2 separate regions of the Homo sapiens genome follow, and region 1 is linked to region 2. The links come from fine-mapping of genetic effects on gene expression. A gene starts in region 2. The other region holds a variant in brackets. All regions are shown on one strand. Distances are between the middles of the regions.

What was found.
Region 1: its variant is fine-mapped to the expression of P2RX4 in whole blood (TOPMed, PIP above 0.99).

What each region holds. Positions count from the first base shown.
Region 1 is chr12:121,227,140-121,243,439 of GRCh38, reverse strand. P2RX4 (purinergic receptor P2X 4) reads right to left here. Exons shown (of 12, transcript NM_002560.3): 6 at 14,827-14,907; 7 at 14,574-14,715; 8 at 14,341-14,477; 9 at 10,933-11,026; 10 at 10,764-10,829; 11 at 10,348-10,443; 12 at 9,334-9,917. The coding sequence ends at 9,891. It overlaps CAMKK2 (calcium/calmodulin dependent protein kinase kinase 2), which reads left to right. Exons shown (of 17, transcript NM_001270485.2): 17 at 2,571-5,748. The coding sequence ends at 2,741. Among named protein-coding and RNA genes, the nearest start is that of P2RX4, 25 kb to the right of the region's middle. RefSeq lists silencers at 2,595-2,674, 12,880-13,174 and enhancers at 9,071-9,698, 12,884-12,933, 16,072-16,121. The variant ACCG/G (reference allele first, on the strand shown) is at 10,000.
Region 2 is chr12:121,200,697-121,216,996 of GRCh38, reverse strand. P2RX4 (purinergic receptor P2X 4) reads right to left here and starts at 6,868. Exons shown (of 12, transcript NM_002560.3): 1 at 6,699-6,868. The coding sequence starts at 6,832. LOC105370032 (a long non-coding RNA gene) reads left to right here and starts at 6,925. Exons shown (of 4, transcript XR_001749352.3): 1 at 6,925-7,148; 2 at 13,397-13,499. RefSeq lists an enhancer at 6,043-6,092 and a silencer at 6,423-7,162.

The sequences.
Region 1 (16,300 bases), 26 kb before region 2:
TGGATGGACTTGTCTCCACCTTTTGGCTATCGAATGAAGACTGATGCTATGAACATTTGTGTACAAAGTGTTAGGAGTTGGCTTACGAGATGAAATGGATTGACTAGCAGGCTGGATGCAGTGGCTCACGCCTGTAATCCCAGCACTTTGGGAGGCCGAGGCAGGTGGATCATGAGGTCAGGAGTTTGAGACCAGCCTGGCCAATATGGTGAAACCCCGTCTCTACTAAAAATACAAATATTAGCCGGGCATGGTGGCGCACACTTGTAGTCCCAGCTACTCGGGAGGTGAGGCAGGAGAATCACTTGAACCCAGGAGGTGGAGGTTGCGGTGAGCTGAGATCACGTCATTGCACTCCAGCCTGGGCAACAAGAGCAAAAATCTGTCTCAAAAAAAAAGGCTGGGCGCGGTGGCTCACGCCTGTAATCCCAGCGCTTTGGGAGGCCAAGGCAGGCGAATGACGAGGTCAGGAGATCGAGACCATCCTGGCTAACACAGTGAAACCCCGTCTCTACTAAAAATACAAAAAATTAGCCGGGCGCGGTGGCGGGCGCCTGTAGTCCCAGCTACTCGGGAGGCTGAGGCAGGAGAATGGCGTGAACCCGGGAGGCGGAGCTTGCAGTGAGCCGAGATTGCGCCACAGCACTCCAGCCTGGGCGACAGAGCGAGACTCCGTCTCAAAAAAAAAAGAAAAGAAAAAGAAATGGATTGGCCACCCATCCCGTGGGAGTCAGGGCTTATATGGTAATCTAGGAGGAACACCTGTTTGGGAATTATTTATGCTTTTGAGAGAAACCTTGCCCTCCAGCATAGAGCAGGGAAAATGGCAGTCCTTCAGAACCGGTCTTCAGCAGTCTCAGAAGGCAGACACAGTCCCCAGCTTGTGCCCAGACAGACGCCTGGGCAGCCCCGCCTTGGGTGTGAGCCTCACGGATGATGGAGTGGAAACCCAGCGGGCTGGCCTTTCCTCGGCCTTCCTCCTCTCAATCTCCATTTTAGGGTTTGCCAAACCGGGGCTGCCTCCTGTCTCTGAGCAAGTCTGCTGTTGGTTTCTTTCCTATTTTCTTTCTTTCTTTCTTTCTTTCTTTTTTTTTTTTGAGACAGGGTCTTGCACTGTTGCCCAGGTTGGAGTGTTGGAGTGTAGTGGTGTGATCTCGGCTCACTGCAACCTCTGCCTCCTAGGCTCAAGCGATTCTCCTGCCTCAGCTTCCTGAGTAGCTGGGTTTACAGACATGTGCCACCATGCCCAGCTAATTTTTGTATTTTTTTAGTAGAGATGGGGGTTTCACCATGTTGGCCAGGCTGGTCTTGAACTCCTGACCTCGGGTGATCTGCCTGCCTCAGCCTCCCAAAGTACTGGGATTACAGGCATGAGCCACTGTGCCCGGCCTTCGTTTCAATGAGATCAAAATTGCAAGACACCAGCAGATGGAGACTGGCCCCAAAGGGCTATGCTGCCCCTTCCTTTCTTCACCTGGGATCCCCTGCCCTCAGCCCCCAGCAGGTAGGATGCCTTGGTCATGGGAGCTCACAGAGCTGATTCAGGCACTGGGGGTCTTGGACTGGGGGCCTGCCTGCCGTCTGCAGTAAGACCCAACCCCTACCAACAGGCAACTGCGAGGGCAGAGACTGAGGGCCTGACCTAACGTCTAGTTACAGCGCCCCCCTCCCCAGGGACCTTACCCACATTCTCCATCAGAAACATAGCAAGCCAGACATCACGCTTCCTTTCCCTTGTGTAAGGACAGTCTCCCTCCTGGACAGGAGACACGGATTGTTGTGGGGGAAGGACAGACAGTAACCCATGTGGCATGCCCAGTGACCTCCCTAAGAACAGGGGAGCTGTGTGATGGTGGTGAGGGGATAGGCTCGGGGATTCCCCTCGCACCTGTCACGCCATCCACGCTGTCACACCGGCGGCTCCAGCCTGGGCTCTTCAGGGAAACAAGGGCTCTCCTCCTCCCACTTCCAAGAGGGAAGGGGCCTCCTCTTCTGTCTGAGGTGCTCCTCCCTCAGGGCTGGCTGCAGGAGGGCTGAGGCGGGAGGATCCCTGGAGCAGTTGTCATCTGCCCTTTCTTGAGGGCCAGCTGTGTGCCAGGCCAGGCAGGGGAGGCTCTGATCACCCCCACACACAAGGAACTCAACATCTGGTGACTGAGGACAAGCGTCACAGTCCCTTCCCTGTAAGGGCTCATAGCCTAAGTGGGGGATCGAAGTACCTAAAAACCTGGTATGACAGGCGCCGTGGGGTGGGGGGTGCCTTCTACTTGGGATTTGTGCAGTGAATTTTGGTGTTACATAGTTTTGGAACTGTTGTACGGGTCCTTGCTATTTTTGGCAAATGATGCTGGTCTTTCATTTACAGAGGGGCTGCGTGCAAAGTCTCCTTTGAAAAATTTATGTGAGCAAGGAAAAGGGGAGAGGATCTCAAAGACTGGGTTACGTAGATCACGTTCCAGGGGGTGCGCGACGGCCCACTTGGGCAGGGGGCCCAGATGTGGGAGCAGCTGGCTCAGGGCCTCGCTGGCATTTCTCAGAGTCTTAATGTTGGTTTTCTGTTCGGTGAGCAGGAAGCAAGGCAGCGAAGACAACCTCCAGGGCACCGACCCGCCCCCCGTGGGGGAGGAGGAAGTGCTCTTGTGAGAGGCAGTCCCTGCGTGGAAAGTTGCTGGGCCCCCGCCCCCGGCTCCCCCGCACGCATGCATCCACTGCGGCCGGAGGAGGCCATGGAGCCCGAGTAGCTGCCTGGATCGCTCGACCTCGCATGCGCGCCGCGTCGCCTCTGGGGGGCTGCTGCACCGCGTTTCCATAGCAGCATGTCCTACGGAAACCCAGCACGTGTGTAGAGCCTCGATCGTCATCTCTGGTTATTTGTTTTTTCCTTTGTTGTTTTAAAGGGGACAAAAAAAAAAAAAGGACTTGACTCCATGACGTCGACCGTGGCCGCTGGCTGGCTGGACAGGCGGGTGTGAGGAGTTGCAGACCCAAACCCACGTGCATTTTGGGACAATTGCTTTTTAAAACGTTTTTATGCCAAAAATCCTTCATTGTGATTTTCAGAACCACGTCAGATATACCAAGTGACTGTGTGTGGGGTTTGACAACTGTGGAAAGGCGAGCAGAAAACTCCGGCGGTCTGAGGCCATGGAGGTGGTTGCTGCATTTGAGAGGGAGTAGGGGGCTAGATGTGGCTCCTAGTGCAAACCGGAAACCATGGCACCTTCCAGAGCCGTGGTCTCAAGGAGTCAGAGCAGGGCTGGCCCTCAGTAGCTGCAGGGAGCTTTGATGCAACTTATTTGTAAGAAGGATTTTTAAATTTTTTATGGGTAGAATTGTAGTCAGGAAAACAGAAAGGGCTTGAAATTTAATAAGTGCTGCTGGAAGGGGATTTTCCAAGCCTGGAAGGGTATTCAGCAGCTGTGGTGGGGAAACATTTCTCCTGAAAGACTGAACGTGTTTCTTCATGACAGCTGCTCAAAGCAGGTTTCTGAGATAGCTGACCGAGCTCTGGTAAATCTCTTTGTCAAATTACGAAAACTTCAGGGTGAAATCCTATGCTTCCATGTACATTACATGGCTTAAGATTAAACAAAAACATTTTTCAAGTCTCTAACTAGAGTGAACTCTAGAGCACAGTAGTTCAGAAACTATTTAGAGCTTCCAGGATATATTTCACAGCTTCAGGCATGTGATCAGTTAGAGCCGATGAAACCTATGCCCGCCTGTATATATATTAGCAGCTTAGCTAGTTCATAACCTGTATATTCTAAAGACTGCTAAGGTTTTGTTTTCATTTTAAATCCTAGCTGATTGTTGTGGTCAATGAAATACCCAGTTTCTGGAGGGCCAGGTGGGAAATGCTTTCACTGGACCAACACACAAATGATCATCCTGAGGATCTGAGCTTCCCTAGACTCCACACAATAACCTTGGGGCACCCTTTTAGAGAAGACTGTTGAAACCCACAGCACTCGTTGGGGTATGAGGAAACCAGGGCTTGGCACAGGAAGTTCCCCTTTGTAGCTAAAAGTCCAGAAAGAAAGGGTTCATCTTTTTGACTTCCAACTGATATTGGGAAGTTTGGTTGAGGTTCAAGTGTGACTCCTTCCAGAGCCACAGGTAGGGGAGTGTGAAGTTGAGGGGGAGGAAAGCTGGAAGGACTCTGCCTTGGGAGATTCCCAGCTCTGCTTTCCAGCGCTTGGTGGAATCTGGGCTGGGGAAAGACGGCACCGGGAAACTCTGCTTCCCCATTGTTTCCATCTGATCAGCTGTGGTGTGAGGACTTCTCAGACAAAGGCAAGGCCTCGTGCCCCTGCCCAGCCCATTCATGGAGCCCTGGGCCTTCTTGGCTTCCATAGATCCTAAGCTCTTGACTGTAGTTTAGCCAGACTTGTTTTGCTATCTTATAAGCAGTTCAGAATTAGGGAATGCTGGTTTTGAAGAGCAAAGGACAGGTAGTCTAGAGAGGGTCGTCTGGCCTGCTTGCTGGGTCTTTGTAACCCAGCACTTCCTCTTGCCCTCCTGGCTTTATGTTTATGGGGAGAGGACTCAATAGCTCCACCCCTTCTGGCACCAGATGGGGCTTGGTTAGTTTGCAATAAGCACCTTGCAGAGGTTAAAGCCAGCGGGTCCCTAGTCTTAGGCCCAGCCTGCTTGTGTGGGCTCTGGCCTGGCCTGGTGGCTGGCCCAGGGGGCAGCAGTGCTTAGAGCTTCTGCAGGGCTTCTCTTGTTTACACAGCTGCATCAGACAATGCCATTTCTCCCCACCACGGAACCTTCCATCTAAGATTTCTTCCAGGGAATGCCAGCAATCAGGCAGCACCCAGCTGTGGGGGCAGTGGGGTGGGGGAGACCCACATTGATGACTTTTTTTTTTTCTTTTAATGAAGAAACACCAAAGAAAGCTGTGGAAAGGACCTGCCCCACATGAAAAGGATAAGCCAAGATGGCTGTAAACACAGAGCATTTGAGCTGCCACTCTTGGAGCACATTGATTTTTCAAAAGCCAGCTCTGTCAGGAAAGGAGGTGCTGTTATGAGCAGCTCTTCCAGTGGGCAAAGAGGACGCCCATAATTTCTTCCATTGCTAGCTCATCTGTGGGACCAATTTGGTGTAAGCAACCTGTGGCCTGCACTTGTGGCCTCGAAGGAAGCACAAACCCTCCATCCACTTCCCATTTCCTCTGCCCTTTTCCACCTCCCCCTTCCATCCCACCAGCTGCCAGTGGCTCCCAGAAAGCCTTATTGAGCCCCTTGTTGACACTTGGGGCTGCGGAGGCCTCTCCCTACTGGTCTGGCCTTTCCTGAGAGGCAGGTCTTCCGTCCTCAGAGCCTTTCTGGAACAAGGAGAATGCCTGTGCAGGTGGACACACAGGCCTGGCCTGTCGCTCTCACTTGTCTTCCAGCGGGGAGCTTCACGTTGCCGAGTGGAAGAACCATGACCTCCACTTGCTTCCAAGGTGCTAGGGAAGTTTCAGGGTACGCTGGTTCCCCTCTCCAGCTGGAGGCCGAGTTTCTGGGGACTGCAGATTTTTCTACTCTGTGATCGATTCAATGCCCGATGCTTCTGTTTCATTCCCGACCCTTTCTACTATGCATTTTCCTTTTATCAGGTGTATAAAGTTAAATACTGTGTATTTATCACTAAAAAGTACATGAACTTAAGAGACAACTAAGCCTTTCGTGTTTTTCCACAGGTGTTTAAGCTTCTCTGTACAGTTGAAATAAACAGACAGCAAAATGGTGCCAAGCCTGGGCCTCTTGGGGAGGTTTGTATTGGTGATTGTTTATTTAGGCCGCCTGCCCTGATGTCTGTATTCCTTCCTCAGGCTGACAGCGAGGTCAGATGCCCAAGTCAAGGCTAATGTATTCAGCAAATCTCTAATTTAGAGCATGTCCTAGGACCTTGCTACTCAGTGTGGCTCCCAGACCAGTAGCGCCAGTGTCACCTGTGAGTGGGTTAGAAACGCAGGTGCCGGCCGGGCACGGTGGCTCACACCTGCAATCCCAGCACTTTGGGAGGCCAAGGTGGGAGGATTGCTTGAGCCTAGGAGTTTGAGACCAGCCTGGACAACATGGCAAGACCCCATCTCTTAAAAAAAAAAAAAAAAATTAAAAAATTAATTGAGTGTGGTGGTGCATGCCTATGGTCCCACAGCTACTCAGGAGGCTGAGGTGGGGGGATTACGTGAACCCTGGAGGTCAAGGCTGCAGTGAGCTGTGATCATGCCACTGCACACCAGCCTGGGCAACAGGGCGAGACCCTGTTTCAAAAATTAAAAGAAAAAAATAAATGCAGATACCCAGGCTTGGCTTAAACCTGCTCCCCAGGTGACTCGTCCGTGTGCTGAAGTTTGAGCAGCACTGCTTTCGCAGGCAGGTAATTGCAAGATTCTGGTGGAGGCCAGACAGGTGGGCAGCCCCCGAGCAGTCTCAGTCACACTGAACTATGGCCTGGTATGCCACATGACACTTTACCCCACGAGGTAGGGATTAACCTCGTTTTATGGATCATCGTCTGTGAGGTGAGGCTCCAGAAAGTTAAGTCAGTTGTCCAAGGGTTAGAATTTGCCAGCAAAACCCTTCTGGTTTTCTTTTTTGAGACAGGGTCTCGTTCTGTCACCCAGCCTGGAGTGCAGTGGCAGTCTCGGCTCACTGCAATCTCCACCTCTCAGGCTTAAGTGATCCATCCACTTTGGGTTCCAAAGTAGCTGGGACCACAGGGGCCCACCACCACACCAGCCCCCACACCCAGATAATTCTTAAATTTTTTATAGAGACAGAATCTCACTATATTACCCAGGCCTGGTCTCAAACTCCTGGACTCAAGCAGTCCTCCCACCTCAGCCTCCCGAGTTGCTGGGACTACAGATGTGCACCACCATGCCTGGCTAATTTTTAAATTATTTGTAGGGATGAGGTCTCACTACCTGTTGCCCAGGCTGGTCTCAAACTCTTGGACCAAGTAATCCTCCTGCCTCAGCCTCCCAAAGTGCTGGGATGACAGGCGCGCATCACCACACCCAGCCTCCTGCTGGTGTTCATGGCATCTAGAAACACACCCGCCCCTCACCCCAACACTGGCTTGCTTTCACATTTGTTTTAGAAAAGAGGCTAAACAGCATCTCCCCCACTTCGGAAGACAGCCAGTGACCATCACTCCTTGACGAGCAAGATCATAAACACACCCATTGCCCTTAAGTCTGTTTTGTGCTGCTGTTACAGGGACCTAAGACTGGGTAATTTATAAAGAACAATAATTGATTTCTCACATTTCTGGAGGCCAGGAAGTTCAAGATCAAGGTGCTGGCAGGTTTGGTATCTGGTGAGGGCTGCTCTCTGCTTCCAAGAGGGTGCCTTGGTGCCGCATCCTTTGGAGGGAGGAACACTTGTCCTCGCGTGGCAGACAGTGGCAAGGCAGACGGGGGATGAGCTCCCTCTCTAGCCCTCGTATAGGGCACCAACCCCATTCATGAGGGCAGCGCAATCCTGACTCAGTCACCTCCCCAAGGCTTCACCTCCCAATAAGGTTGCCTTGGGGATGAAGTTTCCAAAATGTGAATTTTGGTAGACACATTCAGCCCATATCACCATTCCTAAACATTCCAGCTTCATTTGACCCATGTGCCTAAGCAAGCACTTTTTATTTTTTCAGACAGGGTCTCACTTTGGTGCCCAGGCTGGAGTACAGTGGCACCATCATAGCTCACTGCAGCCTCAACCTCCTGGGCTCAAGTGATCCTCCGGCCTCAGCCACCCAAGTAGCTGGGACTACAGATATATACCGCCACACCCGGCTAATTTAATTTTTTGTAGAGATAGGGTCTCACCATGTTGACTGGGCTGGTCTTGAATGCCTACGCTTAAGTGATCCACCTTGGCCTCCCAAAGTCCTGGGATTACAGGCAACAAGCATTTTTTTTTAAAAGGCAGCATGAACCAGAGCTTCAATAAAGGGAGTTGGTAAACTTTTTTTTTTTTTTCCAAAAGCAAGAAAAGCCCAGGTTGGCCATTTATCCAGCAGAAGCAGAGTATTTGTAAAATAATGGTTCCTCTCAGTACTTGGAAGTGAATTCATGGCAGAGGCGAAGGGCAAACTGCTTCCTCTAGGGGGATTCTGAATACCTGATGCAGAATTCAGCTGGTGTGTGGCTGGGTGCAGTGGCTCACGCCTGTAATCCCAGCACTTTGGGAGGCTGAGGCGGTGGATCATGAGGTCAGGAGTTCCAGACCAGCCTGGCCAACATGGTGAACCTCTGTCTCTACTAAAAATACAAAAATTAGCTGGGTGTGGTGGCAGATGCCTGTAATCCCAGCTACTTGGGAGGCTGAGGCAGGAGAATTGCTTGAACCCAGGAGGCAGAGGTTGCAGTGAGCCGAGATCATGCCACTGCACTCCAGCCTGGGCAATAGGGCAAGACTCTGTCTCAAAAACAAAAAAACACAAACATTTAGTTGGTGTGAAGCTGCAGCTGGAAATAGCTTCATGAACATTTCGAACCTGTGCGGAGCTAGGTATGCGTGCTGCTGCTTTTGGTTGGAGACTTTTGGGAAGCAAACAGGGAAGGGAGAGGAAGCCACTTCCATGTTACCAAAAATTGTGTTACCCACAGCATAGAATTGTAATTTTATGTCAAAATGGAGGCACAGGTAAGATGTCACTAGAGAAAAAGTGTCCTGTGAACTGTGCAGGAAGACAAGCTAATGACAAATTATTAGGCTTTAAAAAGTAGGCAGCTGGGTGCAGTGGCTCATGCTTGTAATCCCAGCACTATGGGAGGCTGAGGTAGGAGGATCGCTTAAGCCCAGGAGGTGGAGACTGCAGTGAGCAGTGATTGCGCCACTGCACTCCAGCCTGGGTAATAAAAAAAATAAATAGGCCAGGTGTGGTGGCGCACACCTGTAATCCAATCACTTTGAGAGGCTAAGGCAGATGGATCATTTGAGGTCAGGAGTTCGAGACCAGCCTGGCTGGCCAATGTGGTGAAACCCTGTCTCTACTAAAAATACAAAAATTAGCCGGGCATGGTGGCATGCACCTGTAATCCCAGCTACTCGGGAGGCTGAGGCAGGAGAATCGCTTGAACCCGGGAGGCAGAGGTTGCAATGAGCCGAGATTGCACCACTGCGCTCCAGCCTGGGCGACAGAGTGAGACTCTGCCTCAAAAATAAAATAAATAAATAAAGAAGTAGGGGAAAATGTGCATAAGTGCCAGAAACAGACCATCCCATGGACCTTTTCTGAGCACAGTGAGCCGGAATAGTGGATTTACTGGTTGTCGTAAAAGGGTAGGAAGGAAAGTTCTAGCACATGCTATGAGACAACAGACAGGGATTAAGAAAATCACGCTTTAATGTCTGGTCCTCGATCACCTTAGCACAGCGCTTCTCTGAGGAGAAATGCCAGCTCTGCCGCATGGCTGCAGGGAATGGTCGGGGGGAAGCCTGCAGCCCAGGCCTGCTACAAGTCTAGTGACTGCAGCCAGGCGGCCTCCCCTGCCGCATAAAGTGCTTGAACAGAGCCGCCGTGCCTCAGAGGACTGGGCCTGTCCTGGAGAGAGCTGGAGACAGGAGGCTTCTGAGCAAAGCCAGCTCCAGCCCTGAAAGCCACAGCAGTGCCACTGCGTCGGGCCAGCGCTCCCCCGACAACCCCAGGTTGCGGGAAAAGCAGAGTTGACCCAGCCAAGAACAGACTGCTGACCTCCTGGGCCGAGTGGGCAAACAGATCCTGCACACAACACACAGGAGCTGCTGGGGAACCCTGAGTGCTTGTGGAGTGGAGACTCAATCAGATTCCAGAAATTTCTCTGGGGTGATGTGGTGGCCATTTCTCCCTCCTCCTCCTCTCTGTTCTTTGATGGGGCTGTGGAGAGCCCAGGTGTGGGGTAGGCCTCACTGGTCCAGCTCACTAGCAAGACCCTGCAAAGAAGGACACAAGCAGATCAAGGTGCCCCTGGGACCCCTTGTGGCAGGCGGGAGGGAGGTGCGCTCCTGGGACTTC[ACCG/G]CCAGGGGTTCTCAAGTTGGTCCCAGGCCTGGAACCCAACCCTTCCTGTTCCGCAAGGTGCACTGAAGTAGTGTGTGCCCACAGGCATTCTCAGAGCATGCATTATCATCACCAACCTGAGATGTCGCTCATTGAAACGAGGCTGGGTTTAAAGAGTCAATCTAGTACAGGGGCCTAGGGATGGAGCAGCTGCTGAGAGTGGCAGGACTGCCCGGGTTAACGGGGACACCACGCCACACTGGTGCCAGCCTCTGCAGAAGGGCCTCCCCAGACAGGCCCACGCCCAGGGCTCCCACACCCAAGAGATGAGAGGCCTGTGCCTGCTGGGGGCCAGGAGGGGCCTACCTGCTCGTAATCTTCCACATATTTATATTTCTTCTCCCGATAGTAGAGTCTTTTCTTCATGCAGTAGAGGACTATGATGTCACACAGCACGGTCGCCTGAGTTTAGCATAGGGTGAGAGTGAGCCAGGATGCTTGCAACCCATCAACCCATCTTATTCTTTGCGTGCCCCTTCCTGAGAAGCCTGGAATCTTTACCGGAATGGAAAGGCACTCCCATCTCTTGGGAGAAGGCTGGGACCTGAGGGGGGTGGTCTTGGAGAAGGGAAGGTGGGAGGAGGGCTGGGGGCCAAGGGAAAGAAGGTAGGAGGGTCAAGTTTAGAAACACATCTGAGGTCTAGGGCCTAGGGCCAGGACCAGGACCCCAGCCCAGGGTCTCACCTCACCGTGAGGGTGAAGGCAGGGCCTAAACCACTCACCATGCCTAGCAGTGCCAGGCCAGAGCCGATGTTGATCATAGTGGGGATGATGTCAAATTTCCCTGCCTGCCAAGACACCGAAAAAGAAAAAAAGTGTTTCTGCAGGGGCAGGGAGAGGCCCCTTGTCCCTGCAGGGAGTGACGGAGGGGAGCCAGTGGCGGCGAGCTACCTTCCCAAACACAATGATGTCGAAGCGGATGCCATAGGCCTTGATGAGCGTGCGCTGCTCGTTGCCAGCCAGGTCTCTGTAGTACTTGGCAAACCTGAGGGGAAGGAGGATGGATCAGGGGGAGATGGCTGGGGCAGGACCTTGGGCCCTGTGAGAGAACGTTAGAGTGGAGCTGGCACAGGTGAATGGTCCACTCTGCCGGCTGAATGGACGCTGGAGCGGCTCGGGGCCTCTCCTGGCTGAGGCGGGCTGTGCAAGCAGGAGGATGCGGGGCCCACGAGGTACAGGGGCACAGGGAGACCTCCTCCTCCAGCACCAGTGTCCTCTCCTGAACCTGAACAGTTTGCTCTCAACATCCCACCTGGTACATCCTGCCTGCCTCCCTCAAGGGACCCTGACCTCCAACATCTAACAGTAAGAATGTGACCAGCCAGCATTGCAGGAGGGGACTAAGCCAGCCCCAACACAGCATCAGTGCAGGGACTTTTTTTTTTTTTTTTTTTGAGATGGAGTCTCCCTCTGTTGCCAGGCTGGAGTGTAGGGGCACCAATCTTGGCTCACTGCAACCTCCACCTCCCCAGTTCAAGCAATTCTTCTGCCTCAGCCTCCCGAGTAGCTGGGACTACAGGCGCACACCACCATGCCCAGCTAATTTTTGGATTTTTTAGTAGAGACGGGGTTTCACCAAGTTGGCCATGATGGTCTCAATCTCTTGACCTAGGGCTTTTTAAATTTATTTATTTTTTCAAAGAAACATTGATTCTGTGCACACAGTCTTCAACAACAACAACAACAACAAAAAGAACCACTCGTTCGTCACACAGATAAAGAGATGAACAAAACGTCGTCTGTCAACACAGCAGAATATGATTTGGCCATAAAAAGAGACGAGGTACTGACACAGGCTACGACATGGATGAAGCTTGAAAACATCAGGCTAAGGGGAAGGAGCCAGACGCAAAAGGCCACATATTGATTATATGAAATGCTCAGAAGAGGCACATCTGCAGAGACAGAAAGTAGACCACTGTTGCCAGGGGCCGGGGGATGACAGAAGGGTGCAGGGTTTCTTTTTGAGATGACGGAAATGTTCTAAAATCGACTGTGGTGAAGCCTGCACTTATCTGTGAATATAGTGAAAACTATGAATTCTGCACTTCAAATGTGTGAACGGTATGGCATGTGAATTGCATCTCAGTAAGACCATTTAAAAATATATGGCTGGGTGCGGTGGCTCACACCTGTAATTCCGGCACTTTGGGAGGCCGAGGCAGGTGGATCACTTGAGGTGAGGAGCTCGAGACCACCCTGGCCAATGTGGAGAAACCCCGTCTCTAATAAAAATACAAAAAATTAGCTGGGTGTGGTGGCGGGCGCCTGTAATCCCAGCTACTCAGGCGGCTGAGGCAGGAGAATGTCTTGAACCCGGGAGGCAAAGGCTGCAGTGAGCTGAAATCGCACCACTGCACTCCAACCTGGGTGACAGAGCAAGTCACTCCCTTAAAAAAGAAGAAAAAAAAAAAAATATATATATATAATGGCTATATATATAATGGCTATATATATATATACACATATATACATATACATATATGAGAGAGAGAGAGAGCGAGCACGCGAGAGAGCGCACACGCATGAGCAGGGGATGGATGGTTGGTGAAGAACCGTCAAGACATACCATCTGCTGCCCCATGTTCTCCAGGGATCCATCAGGAGCCTCGGCCCGCACCCTAGCTCCATGCTCTATCTGGCCCACAACTTCCACGCCATGGGCCAGGCCTGGGAGACACAGGCAGGGCCTGGTGCTGCCCGAGGTTGGGGGATAGGCGTCCTGAGTTCTTTCCGTTTTAGGGCTCTGACCTAAGCTTGAGGTTTCCACAAGAAGTGTGTGACAGTAGAGATGGAATAACACAAATCTAACTGCTAGAAAAGAAAAATTCAAATATCTGCTTTACTCAGTGAGCCAGAAGGTTCAAAAGGACAGCAGATCCCACAATTACAGAGGTCTTAGGATCCCGTATGGATCGGATTCCACACGTCACCACTAGGGGGAGGCAAGTGCAGCCCAAAGCACCGCTGACCGCGCCCAGGGATGGTCCTTGCAGGGCCTCTTTTTTTTCCCCCTGAGACGGAGACTTGCTTTGTCGCCCAGGCTGGAGTGCAGCAGTGCGATCTCGGCTCACTGCAACCTCTGCCTCCCTGGCTCAAGCGATTCTCCTGCCTCAGCCTCCCAAGTTGCTGGGATTACAGGCATGCGCCACCATGCCCAGCTAATTTTTGTATTTTTTTTAGTAGAGATGGGGTTTCGCCATGCTGGCCTCAGGTGATCTGCCCGCCTTGGCCTCCCAAAGTGCTAGGATTACAGGTGTGAGTCACTGCGCCCGGCCTGGAGCGCTTCCTTTTTAAGGACTGTGAAAAATGCAACAAAGGGTACGTGGAAATTTACCTGGCTATAGATTCTGATCATGAGATCATCAGCTGTAGTGGGTTGAACAGTGTGTCCCCAAAAATTCACATCTACCTGAAGCTTGGGAGTGTGACCTTATTTGGAAATGGGATATTGGCAGACGTAATTTGTTAAGATGAGGTCATACTAGAGTAGGGTGGGCCCTAAATTCAGTGACTGATATCCTTACAAGAAGAAAAGACACAGAGACACATACAAGGCAGAAGGCCTCATGACAGGAGAGGCAGAGACTGGAGTGATGCATCCACAAGCCAAGGAACACCGTGGGCTACCAGAAGCCAGGAGAGACAAGTAAGGACTCTCTCCAGAGCCTTCAGAGCGAGCACAGCCCTGCTGATGCCTGGATTTTAGGTTGTGGCCTCTAGAACTGTGAGAACTGTGAGAGAATCAAGTCCTGTAGTTGCAAGCCACTGTTTGTGGGACTCGCTTACATCTGCCCCAGGACACCGAGATGCCAGCATTTGCAGCAGGGAACCCAGCAAGGCCTTTCAGGGGCCTCAGACCTGTGTCCCCTGCACTCTGGAGATTCTGGCACAGGTTCAACCTTTGAGAAACCAATTCCTGGGCCAGGCCCCAGAGGCCTTTGGACTGGAGGATCACAAGATCATCCGCTCCTTGAGGCAGTGAATGGAGGTCATGGCTGAGGCAGGTGCTGGAAAGCTTAAGCCCCCAGCTTCTCCTGGCTGCTCTAAGAACCATCTCAACATGTTTCTTGCGGCAGGAAAGGGCAAGGAGGGGTCTCGGGGGCCGGGATGGCCCCGGAGCAGGACACCACTAAGGGCATTTTCCCAGCATGGCCTTCCCGCCGCCTTGGACGGGGGACCGGCAGCCTGCCCTTGGGGTGCTGCCTGAGTGCTGGTCTTCAGTGGGCGGCCCACTGGCACGTACGCAGCCACCAGCACCCCCTACAACATGAGCGAGGGGCCCAAGCTCACGCCCACCTGAAATTGTAGCCAGGAGATACGTTGTGCTCAACGTCCCGTGTATCGAGGCGGCGGAAGGAGTACCTGGGCAAGCAGAGGGAGGCGGCTCTGTCCAGGTTGCAGTCCCAGTTGACCTGGATGCCCATGATGCCTCCCTGGGGATGAGCAGCAGAGACACGGCAAGGCTTTCCTCAGCACCTGGCACGAGACGCCTCCAGGGCTGGGTCAGGAGAGCCAGGGCCCGCACCCACCTCCACGGCCATGTCCTGGAAACTGTGTCCTGCGTTCTCCACTATTTTGCCAAGACGGAATATGGGGCAGAAGGGATCTGTTTTAGCATCATAAATGCACGACTTGAGGTAAGTAGTGGTGATGTTGGGAAGGATATTCCTCCTAAAGTCGAGAGGAAGCAGAAAATCAGAGCGACGAAAACCTCAGAGAAGAGAGAAGAGCCAGAAGTTTCTCCAAGACCCTGGTGAACTCACACACCTGGCCACCACTTACTTGCTGAAATTAAATTTGGGATACCAGATGTTGTTCTTAACCAAAAGAGTGAAGTTTTCTGCAGCCTTTAAAAAAGCAGGTCTGAAAAACAATGATAACATTACTGTTAATAAAATACATACAAATACTCACATAACCATGTTATATATATATATATACACACATATATATATGTATTGTGTGTGTGTGTCTGTGTGTGTGTGTGTGTATATATATATATATATATATTTTTTTTTTTTTTTTTTTGAGATGGAGTCACTCTGTCACCTCGAGTGCAGGCTTGAGTGCAATGGCGCGATCTCAGCTCACTGCCACCTCAGCCTCCCGTGTAGCTGGGATTACACAGGTGTGAGCCACTATGCCTGGTTAACTTTTTTTGTATTTTTAGTAGAGACAGGGTTCCACCATGTTGGTCAGGCTGGTCTCCAACTCCTGGCCTCAAGTGATCCGCCTGCTTCAGCCTCCCAAAGTGCTGGGATTACAGGCATAAGCCATCACGCCCAGCCTATATATATTTTTGAGACAGGGTCTTGCTCTGTTGCCCAGGCTGGAGTACAGTTGCATGAACACAGCTTCTTGTAGCCTCGACCTCCCAGGCTCAGGGGGTTCTCCCACCTCAGCCTCTCAAGTAGCTGGAACTATAGGCATGCATCACCATGCCTGGCTAATGAAATTTTTTTTTTTTTTTTTTGTAGACATGAAGTCTTCCTACATTGCCCAGGCTGGTCTTGAACTCCTGACCTCAAGCAATCTTCCTACCTCCGCCTCCCTGTGCTGGACTACAGGAGTGGGCCACCATGTTCAGCCCCTATGTAATATTTTTAAAAACATATACACACATCTTACAATGTCATTTTGTCAAGAAGATGAAACACGTCTAGCATTTTCTACACCCTTCTGCATGCACACTCTTCTCTTCCAAGAGAAGACACTGAGCCGAGCCTTCCAGGTTCTTCCCCTCAAGGAAGGGCAGGCCCTCTCCCCCAAGGCGGTGAAAACTGAATTGCTAACCAGGGAGGGGATTTGTGGCCTCACTGGAAATCAGTAGGCCTGGCTTTGGGGCCGCAGGCGTTCTCCAGGGAGAGAATGAAGGCTGGGCAGATCCGGTTTTACAGGTCAAAGCAAAAGTAAATTTGCCTACAGGCTGGATCCTGACCTGTCTGAAAAGTGCACAAAGCACCCGCCAGCAGGTGCGCCGGCCTCTTCTCAGAAGTGCCACGTCAGCTCCTGGCTGACAATACAAGTTGAATCTGTCCCCAAGGGGACTCCATTTCTTTGGTGAATTTCTCCTGGAGAATCTGGCACTGTATGGCTAACCCTTCTGTGGGGGATGTTCCCCTGATCCAGGTGGGATCTTTGGAATGACAACATCAACAGTCTTCCCAGCCCTGAGACAGGAGCAAGGTCAGTGACAGGGCTGCACTCGGAGGAGAGCTGAGCCTGTCACCACTGCTGTCAGAGAAAGGCTGGGACC
Region 2 (16,300 bases):
GGGGACTCCATTTCCACTTCTGCCAAATGGGGATGGTAGCACCTAAACCACAGGAGGGTTTGCGGGAAATAAATGAGATGGTGCAGGTAAAGCACTCAGCACACTGATGGCACAGAGAAAACGCTCGATGAATACTGTCTTTATTACATTTGAGCATTTTCTCTTTTTTTTTTTTTGAGACGATGTTTCGCTCTTGTTGCCTAAGCTGGAGTGCAATGGTGTGATCTTGGCTCACTGCAACCTCCGCCTCCCGGGTTCAGGCAATTCTCCTGCCTCAGCTTCCCAAGTAGCTGGGATTACAGGCATGCGCCAACACGCCTGGCTAATTTTGTATTTTTAGTAGAGACGGGGTTTCACCATGTTGGCCAGGCTGGTCTCGAACTCCTGACCTCAGGTGATCCACCCACCTCGACCTCCCAAAGTGCTGGGATTACAGGCGTGAGCCACTGCACCTGGCCCTTTGAGCACTTTCAATGCCTGTGACCTATGGGAATCACCAAGAGATAATACAAATTATAACAGTTACCACTGGAGTGTTTATAGGCACCAGGCACTGATCTAAGCTCTTTATATGTATTAACTCATTTAATCCTGACCACTTTATGAGACAGGTATCATTATTATTATTTCCATTTTACAGAGGAGGAAATGGAAACACAGAGAGGTTAAGTCACTTGCCAAAGGTCACACAGCTAGTGAGTGGCAGAGTCAGGATTTGAACTCAAGCCAGAAGCATCTGAAGCCTCTTCTCTCACCCACTATGCTCTACTCTAAGCTTGTCTAACCCATAGCACACAGGCCGCATGCGGCCCAGGATGGCTTTGAATGAGGCCCAACACAAATTCGTAAACTTTCTTAAAACGTTATGAGATTTTTTTTTGTGTGATCAAAAAAAGTTTGTTTTTTAGCTCATCAGCTATTGTTAGTGTTAGCATATTTAATGTGTGGCCCAAGATAATTTCTCCTTCCAGTGTGGCCCACGAAAGCCAAAAGATTGGACAACCCTAGGCTACTCTTTCTAGAAAAGAGAATTCTACCCTTTAAGGAACTTTTAAGAGTAGTTTCTTACTTTTCCCCCAAGAATTCTGGTCACATATATGGTTCTCTCCTCTGAAGTGGGACTATGACTACCAGTTTGAACAATTAAAAATCCAAAGGGGCTGGGTACAGTGGCTCACGCCTGTAATCCCAGAACTTTGGGAGGTCAAGGGGGGAAGATCATTTGTGCCCAAGAGCTCGAGACAAGCCTGGGCAACATAGGGATCTCTACAAAAAATAAAAAATTAGCCGGGCATGGTCAGTTTTGATTATAGCAAGATGGACAAAAGCAAAGCATTTACTGCTTTAAAGATTCTCGTGACTGAGACAGTGAATACGTCATAAGGAATCCTACAGAGCTGTGCTGTCCAATAAAAATCCCGGCTATTTGGGAGGCTGAGGTGGGAGGATCACTTGAGCCTGGGAGACGGAGGCTGCAGTGAGCTGTGATGCCACCGCACTCCAGCCTGGGCGACAGGGCAAGGCTCTGTCTCAAAAAAAAAAAAAAAAAAAAAACCATCTACAGGCATTAGCTTATAGGGGTTAGGACAGACTGGAGGCAGAGGTCTTGGTTCATGGCTCAGCTCCACCATTCACGAGGCATAACTTTGGCCAAGGTGCTTAACCTCATTGTGCCTCAGTTTTTCCCATCTATAATCTGGGAATGATAGTAGATCTTCACAGGATTCTTGTGAGGGTAAAAGAATTAATGTAGGTCAAATGTTTACAACAATGTTTGTGAGTCATCGTTGGTCACAGAGCAAGTACTGACACCGTGGAAATTGGCCAGTACTACAAATCAGAACCCCTCCCCTTCGAACTGCTGTTAAACATCTACTAGAGACTATCAGTGTTGTTATTTATAGAATCAGGAAATGCTAGGCTTCTCCTTCTTCTAAGTCCTAGATGCTGAGACTTCAGAAATTCACTGGTTTTGTTGAGGTCAGGAGTCCAAGACCAGCCTGGCCAACATTGTGAAACCCCGACTCTACTAAAAATACACAAAATTAGCTGGGTGTGGTGGTGGGTGCCTGTAGTCCCACATACTCGGGAGGCTGAGGCAGGAGAATCACTTGAACCCGGGAGGTGGAGATTGCAGTGGGCTGAGATCATGCCACTGCACTCCAGCCTGGGCAAGAGTGAGACTCTGTCCCTCCACCAAAAAAAAGAAAAGAAATTAATGGTTTTGTTACTTATGAGTGTGTGTGATCGAGCAGTCTCCAAGTTCATTGCCCAGCCTAGAGATGGGCTTTCCCCCCATGGGCTTTTCCCCTGACAAGTCCAGGGCTTCTAGGAATTCAGCTGCAGTGTAAGCTTCCATTTAATTCCAGTCTGACACACAAAAGCTTGGGGCAGGAAGACTGATGTACTCATCAAGTACAGTGAGTTGCTTAATTTAGAGACACAGGGTTTCATGCCACTCATTATCATGTGATTATTTCCTCCTCATATGATTGTTAACAGAGTTAGATAGATGAGAATTGCGTGTTCGGTCTTTTTTTGAGGGAGGGTTGCTGTAGGAGGAGACCACAATTTCACTAAGATGAGTTGCATCAAAAAGTTAAGAGATGAGGTTAAAAAAAAAAAGAGCCTTAATGCAGGTCCTGAGTCAGTTTTGATTATAGCAAGACGGACAAAAGCAAAGCATTTACTGCTTTAAAGATTCTCATGACCGAGATAGTGAATGCGTCATAAGGAATCCTACAGAGCTGCGCTGTCCCATAAAAACATAACGCGAGCCACATATTTTTTTTTTTGAGACAGGCTCTCGCTCTGTCGCCCAGGCTGAAGTGCAGTGGCACAATCTTGGCTCACTGCAACCTCCGCCTCCCAGGCTACAGCAATCCTCCCACCTCAGCCTCCCAAGTAGCTGGGTCCACAGGTGTGCGCCACTATGCCAAGCTAATTTTTCGTATTTTTGGTAGAGATGGGGTTTCACTACGTTGCCCAGGCTGGTCTCAAAATTCCTAAGCTCAAGGGATCCACTTGCCTCAGCCTCCCAAAGTATTGGGATTACAGGCGTGAGCTACCACAGGGCAAGACCCTGTAATTTAAAAGTTTCTAGTAGCCATGTCAAAAAGTAAAAAGAAATAGAAAGGGCTGGGCACGGTGGCTCATGCCTGTAATCCCAGCACTTTGGGAGGCCGAGGCAGACAGATTGCTAGAGCTCAGGAGTTCGAGACCAGCCTGGGCAACATGGAAACCTCATGATTGTAGAGATGAGATTTCTCATCTGTACAAACAAACAAACAAAAACACAATAATTAGCCAGTCATGGTGGTGTGCACCTGTAGTCCCATAATTCCAGAGGCTGAGATGGTAGAATCACTTGAGCCTGGGAGGCAGAGGTTGCAGTGCATTGCACTCCAGTCTGGGTGACAAAGCAAGGCGCCGTTTAAAAAGAAAAAAAGAAAAAAGAGACAGGAAAAATTAATTGTAATGATATATTCTGTGTAACCCAATATATCCAAAATATTTTAACATGTCATCAATAAAAAATGTTTTCATGTGATAGTGGTACTCTTTGTTTTTTTGAGACAGTGTCTTGCTCTGTTGCCCAGGCTGGAGGGTGGTGTGATCACAGCTCTCTGTGGCCTCAACCTCCCAGGTTCAAGCAGTCCTTCTGCCTCAACCTCCCAAATAGGTAGGCCTATAGGCGTGTGCCACCATGCCAGGCTAATTTTTGTATTTTTTTGTAGAGGCAAGGTCTCGCTATGTTGCCCAGGTTTGTCTCAAACTCTTGAGCTCAAGCGATCTTCCCACCTCAGCCTCCCAAAGTACTGTGATTTCAGGCATGAGCCACTGTGCCCAGCCTCTTTTTCTGTACTATGTCTTTGAAATCCAGTGTGTATTTTAAGGTTATAGCACATCTCAGTGTAGAGTAGGAACGGTTAAGTGTTCAACAGGTGCAAGTTACTAGTGGCTACCATACAGTGCAACACCACTATGGATATTTTCCGCAGTTGTAATTTTACAGGTACCCTAAGGTAGATGTGCACTGATCCTCCCACTAGCAGCAAACGCCAAAAGCAAAAAGCTGCAGGGGAGCTCCTGCCCCCAAATGCTTCAGGTCCAACCAGGGATGTGAGTTCAGTTAACTGGCTAGCAGTGAGTCTCCAAAAAAAAAAAAAAAATATATATATATATATATATATATATATATATATTTGAGATGGAGTTTTGCTCTTGTTGCCCAGGCTGGAGTGCAGTGGCGCAATCTGGGCTCACTGCAACCTCCGCCTCCTGGATTCAAACGATTCTCCTGCCTCAGCCTCCCATGTAGCCGGGATTACAGGCATTAGCCACTAGGCCTGGCTAATTTTTTGTACTTTTAGTAGAGACGGGGTTTTACCATGTTGGCCAGGCTGGTCTCGAACTCCTGACCTCAGGTGATCCACCCGCCTCGGCCTCCCAAAGTGCTGAGATTATAGGCATGAGCCACCGTGTTCAGAAAAAAAAAAAAAAAAAATTCTTTTTTTTGCACTGCTCCATCAGTACAATTTACCATTTTAAACTTTATTTTTCTCTTAGAGATGGGGTCTCGCTATGTTGTCCAGGCTGGTCTTGTGTCCAGGCTGGTCTTGAGCTCCTGGCCTCAAGCAATCCTCCCACCTTGGCTTCCCAAAGCACTGGGACTACAGGTGTGAGCCAATGAGTCCAAATCTGGGTGTGGGCCAGGTGGTTCTGATGTTGAGTCTGCACCTGGAAAGCCATCCTCTTGAATACTGTCTGTATCTACTGCTGCTGCTGACAGATATTGGAAGCCAAACCTGCTTGGGCTTCCCTTGGGCAGTGTTAAGATTCCAAACCTCACCCCAAAGACGGGGGGATCTGTTACTTTTAAACAATTCCTCAGATGAGTCTTCCATGATCAGGTAAACTTGGGAAACACAGTTCATTGGTTCCGAAACGTTGCTGAACATGAGAATCACCTGGGCAGCCGATCATACTCTGCAGCAATTAAATCAGAAGGTCTGGGGATGCGTCTGGGCGCGGTGGCTCACGCCTGTAATCCCAGCACTCTGGGAGGCTGCGGCGGGTGGATCACCTGAGGCCAGGAGTTCGAGACCAGCCTGGCCAACATGGCGAAACCCTGTCCCTACTAAAAATACAAAAATTAGCCGGGCATGGTGGTGGGTGCCTGTAATCCCAGCTACTCAGGAGGCTGAGGCAGGAGAATCGCTTGAACCAGGGAGGTGGAGGTTGCAGCGAGCCAAGATTGCACCACTGCACTCCAGCCTGGGCGACAGAGGGAGACTCCATCAAAAAAATAAAAAAGGGTCTGGGGATGGGAGCCAAAGATTTCCAGATGGTTCCAATGTGCAGTTTGGAGACCACTGCACTAGGCAATACGTGTCAGCCCAGCAGCTGTAGACACCAGAACACCCCAGGTAAGCCTTTAAAGTGGCCCCAGGTGGCAAGGTAATTATCATCTTCTCTCTCGCGTTGTATTCAATTGTAACAGGTGCCAGCCCCGCGTGGGGGCTCACGCCTGTAATCCCAGCATTTTGGGAGGCTGAGGTGGGCGGATCACCTGAGGTCAGTTCAGGACCAGCCTGAAACCCCGTCTCTACTAAAAAATACAAAAATTGGCCGGGCGTGGTGGCGGGCACTTGTAATCCCAGCCACTCAGGAGACTGAGACAGGAGAATTGCTTGAACCCGGGAGGCAGAGGTTGCAGTGAGCCGAGATCGTGCCATTGCACTCCAGCCCGGGCGACAAGAGAGAAATTCCGTCTCAAAAAAATAAAAAAATTAAAAAAGTAACAGGTGCCTTCAAGTACAATGGCACATTCAGCGAGGCCTGAGGGCGGTAGGGCATCTCTAGCCTAAGGGGGCAGCATGGGGAATGACTGACTAGGCTAGGGCAGGTACCACAAAAAGCCCCACAAGCCCAGAAAACAAAGGAAGCAAACTTTAAACACTCGCTACAGTCTGACCTCGCTACTACCACATAGTGACACCGCATAGTGATCAAAAGAAATGACCAAAAGCCACCCACCCAGAAGGAACCAAGCGGAAATTCCAAGCTTTGGTTTTGTCAGCAAATCAGCAGGATGGGAAGTGGAGAGCGAAGATTGAGACGTTCAGGGCGAAGCCCCTACAGCCAAGGGGCACTATGGGGGGTCAGGCAGGAGAGGGTAACAGCCTAGCCAGGCTTTGCCTTTATTTATTTTGTAAACAGACGGGTCTCGGACTGTCTCCCAGGCTCGAGTTAAGTGGTGTGATCATAGCTCACTGCAGCCTCAGCCTCTTGGGCTCAAGCGATCCTCCCACCTCAGCCTCCTGAGTAGCTGGGACCCCAGGCGCGCGCCACCAGGCCCGGATGATTTTTAATTTTTTGCAGAGACGGGGTCCCACGATGTTGCCCAAATTGGTTTCGAACTCCTGGGCTCAGGCGATGGTCCCGCCTCGGGCTCCCAAAGTGCTCGGATTACAGGCTTGCGCCACCGCGCCTGGCCCAGGCTGTGGTTTTAAAACAGCAGCAAGCAGCCTCCCGCCCCCGGGGCCCCGGCGCGGCGGCTGGGGCCCAGGGAAGGTGTCACCGCCTCGGCTCGCCGCTCCCGGACTCGCCCAGGTGACCGAGGCCAGGATGAGCCGCCGCACGGCGCGGACGCGAGGGCAGCACCCGCCGCGCCCCCCGCGCGGCCCCACGCTCACCCGATGACGTAGGCCAGGATGAGCAGTTGCACGGCGCGGTTCATGAGCCCCACTTTGCGGCTGCGGATGAGCACGATGCGCGGCGTGTCGTACTCGAACAGGAAGGCCGCCAGCGCGGCGCAGCAGCCCGCCATGGCCGCGCCGCCCGCTCCCAGTCCCCTAGTCGGTCTGGGTCCCAGTCCCCGCTCGGAGCCCCGCCCAGTCCGCCTGGCCTGCTGGCGGCGCCGTCATCGCGGAGGAGGGCCCGGAAGGAGGCAGCACGGGCGGTCGGGGCCCGGGGCCCGGGGGAGGGCGCCACCTCCCCGTCGGGAACGATGACCCTCTAGGGGGCATGGAACTCGCGGGGGGGGAGTGGCCTCGCCCTTGAGGACGAAAGGCTCCTTCAAAAGGCGGGCGAGGGGCCGGGGGCGGTGGCTCACACCTGTCATCCCAGCACTTGCGGAGGCCGAGGTGAGAGGAATCTTGAGTTAGAGACCAGCCTGGACAACATAGCGAGACCTCGTCTCTATCAAAAATACAAAAAAAAAAAAAAAAAAAAAAAAAAAGCGGGCGTAGTGGCGCTCGCCTGTAGTCCCAGGGAGGCTGAGGTGAGAGGATCGCTTGAGCCCAGGAGGTAGAGGCTGCCGTGTGAGCTGTGATCGCGCCACTGCACTCCAGTCTGGGAGATGAAGCGAGACCCTGCCTCAATAAACCAGAAACCAAAAAACAACAAAAAAGGCGAGTTGGGGAGTAATGACCTTCTCAGGAGGGCCAGAGAGAACAAGAGACCCTTTCGGGGAAGATGGGGTCCGCGAAGAGAGAGTGACCTCCCATTTGGGACAGAGTTCAAGTGAGGGGTAACGAGCGACCTCCCTTAGGGGTACTGATAGGTGCCAGGGATTTCCGTAGAGGACCCCGGGGCTGTGCGGAGTAGCCATCGCTCACGAGTGCGGGCTCCTAAACTTGGGCAGCTGTGGTTGGGGGAGCTGGGGCCGCGCTGTCCTTAGCCTCTTGGGGAACAGCCTAAATATCAGGTGTCCTGTGAGCCCTGGGTGAGAGCCACACGCCCTGTAAAATACCCCTCCTGGATTTGAAGCCTGGTCGCATTCTCACTCCAAATACTTCCTTAGTTGCAGCCCAGGGGAGATAATTCTGTGGTCATCCTTTCCACTGAGAAAATGCTATCACAACTTTAGGAGAGAAAATAGTGAAAGGGGGGGAAACAGCCACCGTTCTACCCCATGAATACAATTTTCCGCATGTGTATTTGTTCATTCCCTTCAGATACGTTTTTTCTTTTTCTTTTTCTTTTTTTTTTTGAGACGGAGTTTCACTCTTGTCCAGTCTGGAGTGCAGTGGCGCGATCTCGGCTCACTGTAACCTCCGCCTCCCAGGTTCAAGCAATTCTCCTGCCTCAGCCTCTTGAGTAGCTGGGATTACAAGTGCCCGCCACCACGCCCAGCTAATTTTTGTATTTTTATTAGAGACAGGTTTTCACCATGTTGGCCAGGCTGATCTCCAGCTCCTGACCTCCCATGATCCACCCGCCTCGGGCTCCCAAAGTGTTGGGATTACAGGCGTGAGCCACTGCGCCTGGCCCAGATGTGTTTTCACAGGTGAATGTTATATTTAGTTTCCCAGAAAATATTCATAAGCACATCCTTTATGCCAAGTACTGTCCAGTGAACAGGACAAGCAAAATATCCTGCCTTCATGCAGCATAAATTCCAACAGGTAATTGGTATAAAGTTTTGGTTTGTAATCATAGTCAATGGCTGTGCTTTTCATTTTCTGATTCGCACTACGTGGTTTCTGTGTTACTGCAGACTCATCATAATGACAATTTTTAATCCATGGACCATTTCTTCCGGAAAATATACCACGATGTCTCTAACCGCTCTCATCTGCTTGCTTCTTAGTTTGTGGATCCTATGCATAATCTTTGATACAACATTTTTAGCTCATTTCCTGGATATGAGATTCCTAAGTAAGCCACACCAACTTGTTTTTCCAAATATAGAAAGGTGAATAATAAAATTTGCAGAAAACAGGCAGCATCTGCCTCTAAGAGATGGAATTCTTAAGTTAGAGGGAGGAACAGAGATGCCCATGCCAGCCTTGGTCCAAAATGGTCTCAGGAAAAGGTGGTGGTATTTTATTCATTCATTTGACAGAAATTTACTGAGTGCCTGTTGTGTGCTTGGCACTTTTCTTGATGCTAGGGCTATGGAGTGGACAGGTGAGGTATCTGCCCAAATGGAGTTTGGTGCAATTGGGAAGCCTCAAATTATCTGTAGAAGAAGAAAACTCCATTGCTAAATCCTCATTGGAAGGGGACTTAAAAATCATTTCCTTAAGAATCAAAACATGGCTGGGCACGGTGGCTCACACCTATAACTGCAGCACTTTGGGAGGCCGAGGCAGGCGGATGATCATGTGAGGTCAGGAGCTGGAGACCAGCCTGGCCAACATGGTGAAACCTCATCTCTACTGAAAATATAAAAAACTTAGCTGGGCCTTATGGCAGGTGCCTGTAATCCCAGCTACTCGGGAGGCTGAGGCAGGAAGAATTGCTTGAACCTGGGAGGCGGAGGTTGCAGTGAGCTGAAATTGTGCCACTGCACTCCAGCCTGGGTGACAGACTCCATCTCAAAACAAACAAACAAACCCCAAAAAACACCAGGCACGTGGCTTACACCTTTAATCCCAGCACTTTGGCAGGCCAAGGTGGGTGGATCACCTGACATTGGGAGTTCGAGACCAGCCTGACCAACAATGGAGAAACCCCGTCTCTACTAAAAATACAAAAATTAGCTGGGCGTGGTGGCGCATGCCTGTAATCTCAGCTACTCAGGAGGCTGAGGCAGGAGAATTGCTTGAACCGGGGAGGTGGAGGTTGCCATGAGCTGATCACGCCATTGCACTCCAGCCTGGGCGACAAGAGTGAAACTCCATCTCAGAAAAAATAAAAATAAAAAATAATGGCAGCAATCAAAACACATTTCCAGCCTTCATTCATACTTACCCTATAGTAATGAGTTAGTCCCAACCTCACAAATCTTGAATTTAGATGGTTTGCTTGTGTTTTGGAATGGGGTCAGTTAAGAAAAATGTAGAAATGCAAGTTTTTATAAATTACTAGTTGGTAACATCATTAGGCCTGACCAAAGAAGCTGATCCTAAAAAATGATTTGGAAAAGTTATTTTGTTTACACTGTTGCTCTTGGATTATCTCTTTTTAAAAAATAACTTTATTGACCAGACATGGTGGCCCATTCCTGTAATCCCAGCACTTTGAGAGACTAAGTTGGGAGGATTGCTAGAGCCCAGGAGTTTGAGACCAGCCTGGACAACATAGGGAGACCCCCATCTCTATAAATACTTTAAAAATTAGCCAGCCATGCTGGTGCATGCCTGTGGTCCCAGCTACTTGGGAGGCTGAGGCAGGAGGATCACTTGAGTTTAGGAGGTCAAGGTTGTAGTGAGCTGCAATTGTGCCACTGCACTCCAGCCTGGGTGACAGAGTGAGACCCTGTCTCAAAAATAAATAAGAAGGCGGGATGCGGTGGCTCACACCTGTAATCCCAGCACTTTGGGGGGCCGAGGTGGGTGGCTCACTTGAGCTCAGGAGTTCCAGACCAGCCTGGGCAACATGGTGAAACCCCATCTCTACAAAAAGTACAAAAATTAGCTGGGCATGGTAGCACGCACCTGTAGTTGTAGTCCCAGCTACATAAAATTTTTAAAAAAATAAATTGGCCAGGTGTGGCTCACACCTGTAATCCCAGCACTTTGAGAGGTTGAGGTAGGTGGATCACTTGAGGTCGGGAGTTTGAGACCAGCCTGACCAACATGGTGAAGCCCCATCTCTACTAAAAATACAAAAGTTAGCCGGGTGTGGTAGTGCATGCCTGTAATCCCAGCTACTTGGGAGGTTGAGGTAGGAGAATTGCTTGAGCCCAGCAGGCGGAGGCTGCAGTGAGCTGATATTGTGCCACTGCCCTCCAGCCTGGGTGACACAGTGAGACTCTGTCTTAAAAAAAATAATATAATAAAAATAATAAGGAAAGAGAGAAAATTAAAAATGGATCAAAGACATACATATAAGAGCTAAAATTATAAATCTCTCTGATGAAAACATAGGGGCAAATCTTTGTGACCTCGGATTAGACAGTGGTTTTTTAGATTTAGATTTTGTTGCCTAAAGCAAGGCAACAAAAGAAAAAAATAGATAAATTGGACTACTTTGTCAAAACTGAAAAGTTCGTGCTTCAAAGTTACCATCAAGAAAGGGAAAAACCCACAGAATGATAAAATATTCACATATCCTATATCTGTTAAGGATCTAGTATTTCAGATATCGTAAGAACTCTTAAAACTCACCAATAACATGACAACCCTATTTAAAAATGGGCAAACATATCTGAATAGACATTTCTCCAAAGAAGATATACACATGAGATCAATAAACACAAGAAGATGCTCGATATCATTATCGTTAGGGAAATACAAATCAAAGCCACAGTGAGATACCATTTCCTCCCCACTAGCATGGTTATAATTAAAAAGATGGACAATCAAAAAGCTGGCAAGGATGTGGAGAAACTGGAACCCTCACACATTACTCATGGGAATGTAAAATGGTCCAGCTGCTTTTTACTCGTGGGAATGTAAAATGGGCCAGCTGCTTTGGAAAACAGCAGTTCCTCAAAATGTTAAACATAGAAATTACCGTAGGACCAAGATATTCCTTTTCTAGGATTTCCCCAGAGAATTAAAAAGATATGTTCTGGGCGGGGCTCCGTGGTTCACGCCTGTCATCCCAGCACTTTGGGAGGCCGAGGCAGGTGGATCACTTGAGGCCAGGAGTTCGAAACCAGGCTGGGCAACATGGAGAAACCCCATCTCTACTCAAAATACAAAAATTAGCCAGGCATGGTGGTGCATGCCTGTAATCCCTGTAATCAGCTACTCAGGAGGCTGAGGCAAGAGAATCACTTGAACCTGGGAGGTTGCAGTGAGCCGAGATCGCACCATTGCACTCCAGCCTGGGTGACAGAGCGAGACTCCGTATCAAGAAAAAAAAAAAAGAAAAGAAAAGCTATGTTTGGCATCTGACCTTGTCTCTTTAACCTTCCCATGCCCACTTGGGCCTCTTCCAAGCACAGCTTCCTTTCCCATCCTAAGGCATTTCAAATAAACTTCCACCCCTCCTCTGAAAAAGAAAAATGTTCATGCAAAAACTTGTACATGAGTATTCATAGCAGCATTCATAATGGCCAAAAAGTGGAAACAATCTAAATGTCCATCAACTAATGAACACATAAACACAATGTGGTCCATCCATACAATGGAACATGATTCAGCCACAGGAAGGAAGCACTGACACGCGCCACACCACGGATGACCCTTGAAAACACCACGCTGAGTGAGAGGAGCCAGATGCCACAGGGCACTTATCGTATGATTCTGTGTATAGGAAATGTCTGGAATAGGCAAATCCATAGAAACTGAAAGTAGAGGCCGGGTGTGGTGGCTCACGCCTGTAATCCCAGCACTTTGGGAGGCTGAGGCGTGCATATCACCTGAGGTCAGGAGTTTGAGACCAGCCTGACCAACATAGAGAAACCCCATCTCTACTAAAAATACAAAATTAGCTGGGCATGGTGGTGCACGCCTGTAATCCCAGCTACTCAGGAGGCTGAGGCAGGAAAATCGCTTGAACCTGGGAGGCGGAGGTTGCGGTGAGCTGAGATCGCGCCATTGGACTCCAGCCTGGGCGACAAGGGCAAAACTCCGTCTCAAAACAAAACAAAACAAAACAAAACTGATAGTAGATTAGTGGTTGCCAGGGGCTGGGGGAAAGAAAGGATGGAAAGTGGCTGCTGGTGAGTACAAGGTTTCCATTTAGGGTGATGAAAATGTGCTGGAAAAGAAAGTGGTGATAGTTGCGGAACCTGTGAATATACTAAAAGCCGCTGAATTGTACATTTAAAAAGAGTAAATTTTATGGTATGTGAGTTATGTCTCAGTAATAATTCCAGTAAACAGGGAGTAAACAACCAAGGTCTCAAGAAAAGCAAAGTATATACCACGAATCCATGGGGCCAGACGTCATATTCCTTCTTCACAGGGGAGCATCTCAGGCCCTCACACCAAGCTTACCTTTTTTTTTTCCTTTTTGAGACAGGGTCTCCCTGTGTCACCTGGACTGGAATGCAGTGGCATGATCTCGGCTCAGTGCAACCTCCGCCTCCTGGGTTCGAGCAATCCTCCCACCTCAGCCTCCCAAGTAGCTAAGACTACATGCACACGCCACCATGCCCAGCTAATTTTTTGTATTTTTGGTAGAGATGGGGTTTCACCAGGTTGCCCAGGCTGGTCTTGAACTCCTGAGTTCAAGCGATCCATCTGCCTCGGCCTCCCAAAGCGTGGGGTTACAGTCGTGAGCCACCGCGCCCGGCCTCTTTTTAGTTCAGATGCGATTGGAGCAGTTTCGATTTTCTGGTTCCTTTGTTGCTGGTGAAGCCAGTTCATCAGTACCTGCTTTCTCTAGGCTGTCATTTCTCGCAGAGGTGGTGCAGCAGCTGTTTTTATACTATGTGACCTTATCTTCCTGGCCACAGCTGACTGGACCACAGGTGGGAAACTGACCCAGCCGGGCCAGTCTCTCCTCTGGCTTTGGCATTGGGATAGTGACAACTCTTTCTTCTCTGCAGGTGACTGGAACTGATTTGACATAACCATCGTATGCATGGAGAAGCTGAGAACAGTAATCTGCAGAAGCAAAAGTATGAAACAGCCGGGCAAAGATGCACAGAGGTGAGAGAGACGAAGGGAACGGCCTCTGGTTTCTGTTGAGCTTCCACTTCTTGGTTCTGCCTCCTCCCCCCGTTCACCTTTACCTTTGAGATACCCCCATAATCTCATAATAAGTGTTCATTTTTTACTTAACCTAGTAGCCTTCTGAAACTTGGAATTGAAAAGACTATGTCTATAGCCCTAGGATCTAACAGATAAAAAATGTATTATGTCACCAGTAACGTAGGTGGTAAAACAAACATTTGTTTGAATGCAGCAAATTAGAAGGAGGTGGGACGCGTTGCCCCAGGCCACCAATACTAAGAGCAGCGATACACAAATAGCCCATAAAAAAGAAATGTTTCTATAAAAAGCAGAGCCAAGAACTCCGAAAAGCTCATCAGTCTGGGGCCATTTAGTTTAGAGACCTCAGTGTGCCTTAGGGTGTCATTTGGTTATGGTTATGTAAGACTGACATTTGTTACAATGGCCTTGAGCCGCAAAAGGCCAGTCAGAAGAGACAGTGTCATTTGTTTAGGAGAATCTACAATGAAAAAATGTTTAAATTAAATGTTTAGGCATTTAAAGATGTAAGACTCGCTTATCTGGCACATAGACATTGTGAAATACGTCATTGTATAACAGAATGACAGATACGTGTGGCACACAGTATAATTATATATACTTCCAGAAACAGAACGTCTAAATAAAGAACAAGTTGATAGCAGAAGTGAGGAATAAATTATTTTATAATTTTGCTGTTGCTTTCCCTGGGTAGTGCTTGAGACTGAATCTATTGTGGAACAACAACAACAAAAAAAACAAAAAGCAAAAAAACAGAACAGAAAAACCCTGACTCTTATCTAACAGGCCATATGTTGATCACAGATAATCCTCTCAACCCCATCAGACCCAACGTCCTTTTCGTTTTTTTGACACAGGGTCTCTCTCTGTTGCCCAGGCTGGTGTGCAGTGGCGGGATGTCAGCTCACTGCAACCTCCGCCTCCCAGGTTCAAGCAATTCTCCTGCCTCAGCCTCCCAAGTAGTAGCTGGGATTACAGGCACCCACCACCATGCCCTGCTAATTTTTGTATTTTTAGTAAAGACAGGGTTTCACCCTGTTGATCAGGCTGGTCTCAAACTCCTGACCTCAGATGATCCACCCACCTTGGCCTCCCAAATTGCTGGGATTACAGGCGTGAGCCACCATGCCGGCCACTTGTATTATGGTTTTAAAGTGTAAGACTTCTTTATATATTCTAGATACAAATTCCATATCAGATATATGATCTATAGATGTTTTCTCCCATTCAGTGGGTGGGAGGAATTACAGGTTGTTGAAATGGAGGAGATGGGGAAGGATGATATTCCTGCAGATGAGCTGGACATATTCTAATACCTGGATCTTGACATCTTAGCACATTTGACATTCGGTCTTTAGGCTGTAAAAGACCTCAGAGATCACACCCTTTGATAGGCAGCGTAGAATAAAAGGTGGATGGGGAATAACCTGTGACTGCAAGAGGCAGTGTGGGGGAATTGTCTGATACTGCTGAAAACAAGAGGCAGCCCCAAATTCATCAATCCTGTATGTGATTTTCACAACAAATTTTTGTTTGTTTCTTTTTAAATTTCACAATGAAATTTCATGTCACTGTGCCACGAAGAAAAAATTGTAATATATAGAATGGAAATAATGTAAAATCTATATATTTTATTTCGTTTTACTTGGTTGAAAATGTGTAACATTTATGATTTTTTTTTTAGTTTTTAACTTTTTTTATTTTTATTTTTATTTTTTGAGACGGAATTTCGCTCTTGTTGCCCAGGCTGGAGTGCAATGGTGCGATCTTGGCTCACCGCAACCTCTGCCTCCCAGGTTCAGGCAATCCTCCTGCCTCAGCCTCCCAAGTAGCTGGGATTACAGGCATGCACCACCACGCTTGGCTAATTTTGTATTTTTAGTAGAGATGGGGTTTCTCCATGTTGGTCAGGCTGGTCTCGAACTCCCGACCTCAGGTGATCTGCCCACCTGGGCCTCCCAAAGTGCTAGGATTACAGGCGTGAGCCACTGTGCCCCGCCCGTTTTTTAAAATTCTTAAAAAAAAAAAAAAAAAGAAAGAAATGGGGTCTCACTATGTTGCCCAGGCTGATGTCAAACTCCTGGCCTGAAGCAATTCTCCCAGCTCTGCTTCCCAAAGTGCTGGGATTACAGACATAACCCAGTGAGTCCAGCAAGGCAAAACTATTGAAAAGCTTTTTTATTTTTTATTTATTTATTTTTTTAGAGACAGAGTGTTGCTCTGTCCCCCAGGCTGGAGTGCAATGGCGTGATCTTGGCTCACTGCAACCTCCATCTCCTGGGTTCAAGCAATTCTCCTGCCTCAGCCTCCCAAGTAGCTGGGATTATAGGCGCCCACCACCACACCTGGCTAATTTTTTGTATTTTTAGTAGAGACGGGGTTTCCCCATGTTGGCCAGGCTGGTCTCGAACTCCTGACCTCAGGTGAACCACCCGCCTTGGCCTCCCAAAGTGCTGGGTTTATAGGTGTGAGCCACTGCGCCCGGCTGAATGAGGCTCCATCTCAAGATAAAATAAAATAAAATAATGATAGTATGCTGTGGAAAGATATTTGAGATAATTAAATGGAAAAATATAACAGGGCAATATGTGTACTGGGTCTTCAAATTTTTGTGTTTATAGAAAAAAGTGTGGCAGATCATAAATTAAAATCTTAACTGGTTTTTCTGGGAAGGGTGAAACTATAGATGATTTTTGCTCTGCATACTTATCTGCATTTTTAAAAATGTCTACTCTGAA